Linked DNA regions of Homo sapiens: all the other regions are linked to region 3. The links come from fine-mapping of genetic effects on gene expression. A gene starts in region 3. Each other region holds a variant in brackets. All regions are shown on one strand. Distances are between the middles of the regions. Region 1 has its middle 2.7 kb from the start of TRR-TCT3-1. Region 2 has its middle 4.9 kb from the start of DYNC2I2. Region 3 holds the start of ZDHHC12 (zDHHC palmitoyltransferase 12).

Region 1 (2,780 bases), 390 kb before region 3:
ATGCTAGTGAGTCCCCATACCTCACCAGTCTCTGCAGACCTGCCAGCTGTTTCTGCAGCTTCCCAGGGTCCCAGGCACCCCCACTGCAGCTCACTAAAGTCAACAGTGCCAGGGTGGCAGCGGAGGTCAGACAGATGGCCTTCACTGCCCAGCTGAGCAGCTCACCTGCTCTAGGCAGGCAGTGCCTGGACAACCCTGGGCCTTTGTAGCACTTGTGAGATGGACACAAAGCATCAGGCTTAGCTGGGAATGGAGTCTGGTCTCCTGAGTATAGGGTGGCATTTGTGTTACCAGCTCATGATTGGAGAAAAATCAAACTGGCTATAGGTAATCACTGGTGAGGCCCTACCAACTTCTGCCTAGAAACGTCTATTCTCCCATCTCAGTAAACCATGCTTGCCTTCATCCTGCTCCCTGAACACACCAGGCTTCTTCCTGCCTTTGGGAACAGCACCGTGTCCCCAGGTTGTTACATGGTGAGCTCCTTGTCATTCACATCTCTGCTCAAATGTCACAGCAGAGATGTCTTCCTGGGCTTCCTGCCATCTAAAGCAGTCCCTAGTCCCCCTCTGCCTCTCTCCATGCTATCATCTTCTGTTTATTATTATTTATTTTTTGAGATGGGGTCTCATTCTGTCACCCAGGCTGGAGTGCAGTGCCACTATGACGGCTCACTACAGCCTCGACCTCCTGGGCTCCAGGATCCTCTTGTTTTAGCTTCCCTAGTAGCTGGGCCTATGGATGCATGCCACCACGCCTAGCTAAGTTTTTTTTGTTTGTTTTGTTTTTTTTTGTTTTTTTGTTTTGAGATGGAGTCTCGCTCTGTCACCCAGGCTGGAGTGCAATGGCGTGATCTCAGCTTACTGCAACCTCCCTTTCCCAGGGTCAAGCAATTCTCCTGCCTCAGCCTCCCAAGTAGGTGGGATTACAGGGGTGCACCACCATGTCCAGCTAATTTTTATTTTTAGTAGAGACGGGGTTTCACCATGTTGACCAGGCTGGTCTCGAAATCCTGACCTCAGGTGATCTGCCCACTTTGGCATCCCAAAGTGCTAGGATTACATGCCTGAGCCACCGTGCCCAGTCAAGTGGTTTCTTTTTTTTTTTTTTTTTTTTGGCGGGGGGAGTGGATGGAGTCTCACTCTGTCGCCCAGGCTGGAGTGCAATGGCGTGATCTCGGCTCACTGCAACCTCCCACCTACTGGGTTCAGGCGATTCTCCTGCCTCAGCCTCCCGAGTAGCTGGGATTACAGGTGCCTGCCACCACGCCCGGCTGATTTTTTTTTTAATTGTTAGTAGAGATGTGGTTTCACCATGTTGGTCAGGCTGGTCTCAAA[C/T]TCCTGATCTTGTGATCCCCCCGCCTCAGCCTCCCAAAGTGCTGGGATTACAGGTGTGGGCCACCGGGCCCGGCTTTTTTTTTTTTTTTTTCTTTTGTAGAGACAGGGTCTTGCTATGTTGGCTCGGCTGGTCTTGAACTCCTGGCCTCAAGCCATCTTCCTGCCTTGACCTCCCAAAGTGCTGGTATTCCAGATATGAGCCACTGCACTATGCCCTTATTTTCTTTAGAGCATTCACCACTCTGAAATTATTTTGTTGGTAGAGCTTGGCGGGGGGTGGCTCATGCCTGGAGTCCCAGCACTTTGGGAGGCCTGGGGGGGCAGATGACTTGAGCTCAAGAGTTCCAGACTAGCCTGAACAACATGATGAAACCTCGTCTCTACTAAAAATACAAAAAATTAGCCAGGTGTGGTGGCGCACACCTGTAGCCCTAGCTACCCAGGAGGCTGAGGTAGCAGGAGCACCTGAGCCCAGGAGGTGAAGGCTGCAGTCAGCTGTGATTGTCTGGGCAACAGGAGTGAGACCCCATCTCAAAAAAAAAAAATTAAAAAATTTTAATGACAATACTGTGATGAGCGTGACACCAGCACAGTGAGCACTGAGTGAGGGATGACCTATTCCATCTCACTTCCACCTGTCCTCTGTGCGGCCAGCTAGACTGTAAGCAACTGAAAGGCAGGCTGTCCTGTTCTGTGTTGTCTTGCTTCTCCCCCTCAGGCCTGATCCAATGTCCGGTGGTACTGCTTTGGTTTCTCCAGTGTGACGAGCCTGACTGAAGGAGAGCAGGTGGCTGGTCACCAGCATCCTCCCGCTAACTCTCACCTGCCCACTTGCATATGACCTCAGTAGTTGATGTGGAAGTACTCATGATTATACTCACGAATCCTGGTGTGCATAAGGTCAGAGCCTCCAATTCACTCTCCCTTTCATTCATTCAAGAAATGTTGTGCCAGGCGCAGTGGCTCATGCCTGTAATCCCAACACTTTGGGAGGCTGAGGCGGGTGGATCACGAGGTCAGGAGATCGAGACCATCCTGGCTGACACGGTGAAACCCTGTCTCTACTAAAAAAAATACAAAAAAATTAGCTGGGCCTGGTGGCGGGCGCCTGTAGTCCCAGCTACTCGGGAGGCTGAGGCAGGAGAATGGCGTGAACCTGGGAGGCGGAGCTTGCAGTGAGCCGAGATCGCGCCACTGCACTCCAGCCTGGGCGACAGAGCAAGACTCCGTCTCGGAAAAAAAAAAAAAATACTCCCCACAAATCTCCACGCTGACCCTGTGAGGTATTATTAATTAGTATGTCCCATTTTTTATATGTAAGAACAAAATGAATCTTGACCTTTCAGCTGAGAAGGCGAACTCAATGCTCATGCCCATACCACTGCACATTCTGCCTCCTGATGGTGATACCCATGAAGGATGTGGTGCTGGAATTTACTCAAG
Region 2 (2,845 bases), 63 kb before region 3:
TTTTTTTGTATTTTTAGTGGAGACAAGGTTTCACCGTGTTAGCCAGAATGGTCCCGATCTCCTGACCTTGTGATCTGCCCACCTCGGCCTCCCAAAGTGCTGGGATTACAGGCATGAGCCACTGTGCCCTGCCTATTATTTCTTTTTTTTTTTAAACAGTCTTGTTCTGTTGCCCAGAGTGGACTGCAGTGGTGTGATCTTGGCTCACTGCAACTGCTGCCTCCCGGGTTCAAGCGATTCTCCTGCCTCAGCCTTCAGAGTAGCGCATGCCACCACGCTCAACTAATTTTTTGTATGTTCAGTAGAGACAGGCTTTCACCATGTTAGCCAGGATGGTCTCGAGTTCCTGACCTCATGATCCGCCCACCTCAGCCTCCCAAAGTACTGGGATTATAGGCATGGGCCACCATGCCTGGCCTGACAAAGCTGTCTAATTTTATTTTTATTTTTTATTTATTTATTTATGTTTTTGAGATGGTGTCACGCTCTGTCATCCAGGCTCAAGTGTAGTGGCACAATCTCGGCTCATTGCAACCTTCACCTCTTGAGTTCAAGTGATTCTCTTGCCTCAGCCTCCCAAGTAGCTGGGACTACAGGCATGCACCACCACACCCGGCTAATTTTTGTATTTTTAGTAGAGACGGGGTTTCACCATATTGGCCAGGCTGGTCTCGAACTCCTGACCTCAGGATCTGCGCACCTCAGCCTCCCAAAGTGCTGGAATTACAGGCAAAAGCCACTGCGCCAGGTCAAAGCTGTTTTAATAATGAGGTTGTTGTGTTGAGCCGGCCGCAATGTTTCACGCCTGTAATCCCAGCAATTTGGGAGGCCAAGGCAGGTGGATCACCTGAGGTCAGGAGTTCCAGACCAGCCTGATGAACATGGTGAAACCCTGTCTCTACTAAAAATACAAAAATTAGCCAGATGTGGTGGTGCATGCCTGTAATCCCAGCTACTCCGGAGACCGAGGCAGGAGAATTGCTACCCCACTGCACTCCAGTCTGGGTAACAGAGTGAGACTCCATCTCAAAAAAAAAAAAAAAAAAACAAAAAGAAAAACCAGCCTGGCATGGTGGCTCACGCCTGTAATCCAGCAATTTGGGAGGCCGAGGTGGGCAGATCACCTGAGGTCAGGAGTTCAAGACCAGCCTGGCCAACATGGTGAAACCTTGTCTCTACAAAAATACAAAAATTATACGGGTGACATAGCGGGTGCCTGTTATCTCAGCTACTCGTGAGTCTGAGGCAGGAGAATCGCTTGAACCCAGGAAGTGGAGGTTGGAGTGAGCCGAGATTGAGCCGTTGCACTCCAGCCTGGGCAATAAGAGTGAAACTCTGTCTCAGAAAAAGACAAACCAAAAAATTAGCCGGGCGTGGTGTCAGGCACCTGTATTCCCAGCTACTTTGGAGGCTCCCATGCATCAGGTCCTAATAACAATCACACTTACTTGATCCTCAGGGGATGAATGTCTGAAAAAAAGCCGGCCGGGCTTGGTGGCTCATGCCTGTAATCCCAGCATTTTGGGAGGCC[G/A]AGGTAGGCGGATCACCTGAGGTCAGGAGTTGGAGACCAGCCTAGCCAACATGGTGAAACCCCGTCTCTACTAAAAATACAAAAATTAGCTGGGCGTGGTGGCAGGCGCCTGTAATCCCAGCTACTAGGGAGGCAGAGGCAGAAGAATCACTTGGACCTGGGAGGTGGAGGTTGCTGTGAGCCGAGATTGCACCCCTGCAATCCAGCCTGGCGACAGAGCGAGACTCCATCTCAAAAAAAAAAAAGAAACCCCATCTCTACTAAACATACAAAAAATTAGCTGGGCATGGTTGCATGTGCCTGTAGTCCCAGCTACTTTGGAGGCTGAGGCAGGAGAATCACTTGAACCTGGGAGGCGGAGGTTGCAGTGAGCCGAGATTGCGCCATTGCACTCCAGCCTGGGCAACAGCGCGAGACTCCGTCTTGGGGAAAAAAAAAAAGAGCCTGAAACCTGAAGGGGGCTCAATCAATGGTGGCCATAATGAAAGCGCCATCTGCCCATGCTCTTTGTGTTGAGAGGCTGGTGTGCCCTACAGATGGATACTGGACATAAAGCAGCAGGATATTCATAATTCCAAAACACAAGTGTTACAGTCTTGGGTGTTTTGTTTTGTTTTATTTGAGATGGAGTTTTGCTCTTGTTGCCCAGGCTGGAGTGCAATGGCGCGATCTCGGCTCACTGCAACCTACTTCCTGGGTTCAAGCAATTCTCCCTGCCTCAGCCTCCCGAGTAGCTGGGATTACAGGCACCCGCCACCATTCATGGCTAATTTATTTATTTATTTTTTTGCAGGCAGAGTCTCACTCTATCCCCCAGGCTGGAGTGTAGTGGCACGATCTTGGCTCACTGCAACCTTCACCTCCTAGGTTCAAGTGATCCTCCTGCTTCAGCCTACAGAGTAGCTGGGATTACAGACAACTGCCACCATGCTGGGCTAATTTTTGTAGGTTTCACCATGTTAGCCAGGCTGGTCTCGAGCTCCTGACCTCGGGTGATCCACCTGCCTTGGCCTCCCAAAGTGCTGGGACTACAGGAGTGAGCCACTGCACCCAGCCTTTTTTTTCTTTTGAGACGGAGTTTCTGCCTCACAGGTTCAAGCATTTCTCATGTCTCAGTCTCCTGAGTAGCTGGGACTACAGGCGTGGGCCACCACACCTGGCTAATTTTTGTATATTTGGTAGAGATGGGGTTTGGCCAGGCTGGTCTCAAACTCCTGACCTCAGGTGATCCGCCTGCCTCAGCCTCCCAAAGTGCTAGGATTACAGGCGTGAGCCACGGCGCCCGGCCCCAATTCATTCTTAATGATCCAGATT
Region 3 (2,500 bases):
CAGGGAGGTGACAGGATTTTGGGGAGGTAGGGTGCAGGGCAAGGAGTGAGGGGGCATGAGACCACCAGACAGCAGAGTGTAGACAAATCCTGTGTCCCTTGGTTGTAAGGGGGAGCAGAGAAGAAAGGGTGGGTTTTGAGGGGGGTTTTCTGATACGGAGACCTGAGCAAGTTTTTAGGCTAAAGGGTGAAGGTGGTGGAGGAGGTCTGTCTTGGGAGGAAAGCCAGAAGGGGCCCCAGTCCAGAAACTGAGGCTGGACCGCCATGGAAGGAGGGCTGGGGTCTGCTGTGGGGGACAGTGGGGGAGGCTGCCTGTGGCAGGTGAGGCGCTGGGTAGGGGGCTACTAAGAGGAATGAGGGAAATGGAGGTGGGTGGGTGGGTGAATCTGTGGGAAGATGGGAGACAGGCCGCACCCCATGGAGTGTTCTCTGGCCTGAGGGTTTGCCTGGACTTGGGCAGCTAGTGGCCATGGGGGTGTGGGGGGTGTGGGTGTGGGCAGAATGCCAATCTTTGCATCTAGTTGAGCCTCCTAATCGTATGGATAGGAAGATTTGGGGTCAGTTCCTGGGAAGGATCATGTGGGTCCCAGGATCAGGGGACATGGGGCTCAAGTCGGTCCTTGGATCTGGTGGGCACCGGCTGGGTCCTGGGATGGACAGGGCATTTGGCAATGATCAGGAAGATGCTGGGATTAATTAGGGATCAACGGGGTATCAGACAGAGAGCAGGTGGCTCTTGGAATGATAGATGGGGAGAGGGCTTCAGGAGCTGGTGGAGATCGGGCCAATCCCAGGATCTCCAGGGATTAGGCGGGAGACCCAGTGTGACCAGAACGTCTGGGGAAGTACGCGGGATCGGGTGGGTCCGGGGTCGCTCGGGGTCCGGCTCACCGGTATCGTGCAGGAAGAGCACCAGCGTGATTCCCCAGGTCAGCACGGTGTGCCCGGTCCGCACCAGGACCCCAGGGCTGAGGAGCGCCCAGGGCGCCATCGCCTCGGCCCGGGGCCCCACCCGGAAGAAGCGCCCAGAGGGGCGGGCCCTCCGAGGGAGGGGAACGCCGCCGCCCGGGGACTGGTGGATCTAGGCGTTGGGCGGGGCCGGACTGGGTCAGGGAGGCTGCCTATTGGATGGCATCTGCGGCCGAATGGACCCTCAAGCCAACAGGTGCCTGAAGAGGCTGAGGGTGGGGCCGGCGCGCGCGCAGCTGGTAACTCCCTCAACTCCAGCCCCACCCGCCAGGTAACTTTTGAAAGCGCCGGAGCGCGCGCGCACCTCCCCCGCGCTCCGCTGTGCCCTCCCCCGCGTTCCCCTGTGCCCGCCCTCGCAGCCTCGCGCATGCGCGTAGCTCCCTGGGCGCTTCGAAGATCCAGCGGCTTGCTGTGAGTCCGGGAGGCAAAATTGTACCCATTTCAAAGATGTGATGACTAAAGTCTCGAGAGGGCCAAGGCTCGCCCAAGGTTGCTCTGTGGTGACAGCTTTACCTCCTTGCTATGTATTCTCAGATATTGCAAACGGACGAGAGAAAAGTGGAGGTACGTGGTGCACATTCTGACTATGGGTGATCCAACTTAGGCGGGAGTCAGAAATCCCAGCACTGCCCCTTCCTACCTGTGTGACCCTGGGCGAGTTACTGAGCCCCTCTGAGCTGTTTTCTGTCTCTATAAGGGGGATTACAATAGTGTCTTCCTCCTAAGGTGTTTGGGAGGATTAAATAATGGAAGCGCCTTGTCTAGCACGGGACTGTCTTGCCTCTCCTGCTGTGAGCCACCACCTACAGGCGGACTTTCCTCACCGGAGGCTGCAGGCTGTCCTCCTTCCCTGTGTCCCCAGGGCCTTCTCCACTCAGCCCCGCCTTTCCACAGCACCTCCCACTGATACCAGCATCCTCCTCCGCCTCCCTCTGATTGGCCCCATCCCAGCTCCTCCAGGATACTCCTCTGACATCTGTTGTTTTTCTCAGCTCAACATCCTTTTTTTGGTTGGGGAATCGACTTCCCATCCCATGTGATTGGAGGGACTGCCCCTCACCCCATAGGATGGCGAGCGGCAGGCTGTGGGCTTTCGACTCTGCAGAACCAATCACAGGCCTTCCATGAGATTACTGTCTAGATGCTGAGAGGAAGGAGCATTCTTTTGGATCTCAAGCCTAAGGAATGGGATATAAGGCAACTGGGAGCCGTCTTTACGCTGGGCGGAGAGGGCTTACCCTGTCTGTGGCTGGAGAAAATGAGACCAACTTATAAAGACACATAGAGATGGATAAGCAGCACTAAAGGAGGGAGCAAGAGATGGTCTGAACAACATTGTCTGAGCCCTCTAGATCCGGCTGTCCCTGAAGCTGATACTGACTCTGCATCCCCTGGTTGCAAGAGTCAATGAATGCCCACCTTTTTTTTTTTTTTTTTTTTGAGACAGAGCCTCACTCTGTTGCCTAGGCTGGAGTGCAGTGGCGCGATCTGGGCTCACTGCAACCTCCACCTCCCAAGTTCAAGTGATTCTC

The links.
Region 1: its variant is fine-mapped to the expression of ZDHHC12 in T cells (TOPMed, PIP 0.99).
Region 2: its variant is fine-mapped to the expression of ZDHHC12 in whole blood (TOPMed, PIP above 0.99).

Annotation. Positions count from the first base shown.
Region 1 is chr9:128,336,032-128,338,811 of GRCh38, forward strand. No RefSeq gene overlaps it. Among named protein-coding and RNA genes, the nearest start is that of TRR-TCT3-1, 2.7 kb to the right of the region's middle. RefSeq lists a silencer at 1,228-1,386. The variant C/T (reference allele first, on the strand shown) is at 1,338.
Region 2 is chr9:128,660,277-128,663,121 of GRCh38, forward strand. It overlaps a transcript of DYNC2I2 not described here. Among named protein-coding and RNA genes, the nearest start is that of DYNC2I2, 4.9 kb to the left of the region's middle. The variant G/A (reference allele first, on the strand shown) is at 1,532.
Region 3 is chr9:128,723,104-128,725,603 of GRCh38, forward strand. ZDHHC12 (zDHHC palmitoyltransferase 12) reads right to left here and starts at 1,024. Exons shown (of 5, transcript NM_032799.5): 1 at 891-1,024. The coding sequence starts at 990. ZDHHC12-DT (ZDHHC12 divergent transcript) reads left to right here and starts at 1,359. Exons shown (of 2, transcript NR_046240.1): 1 at 1,359-1,532. RefSeq lists a silencer at 913-1,392.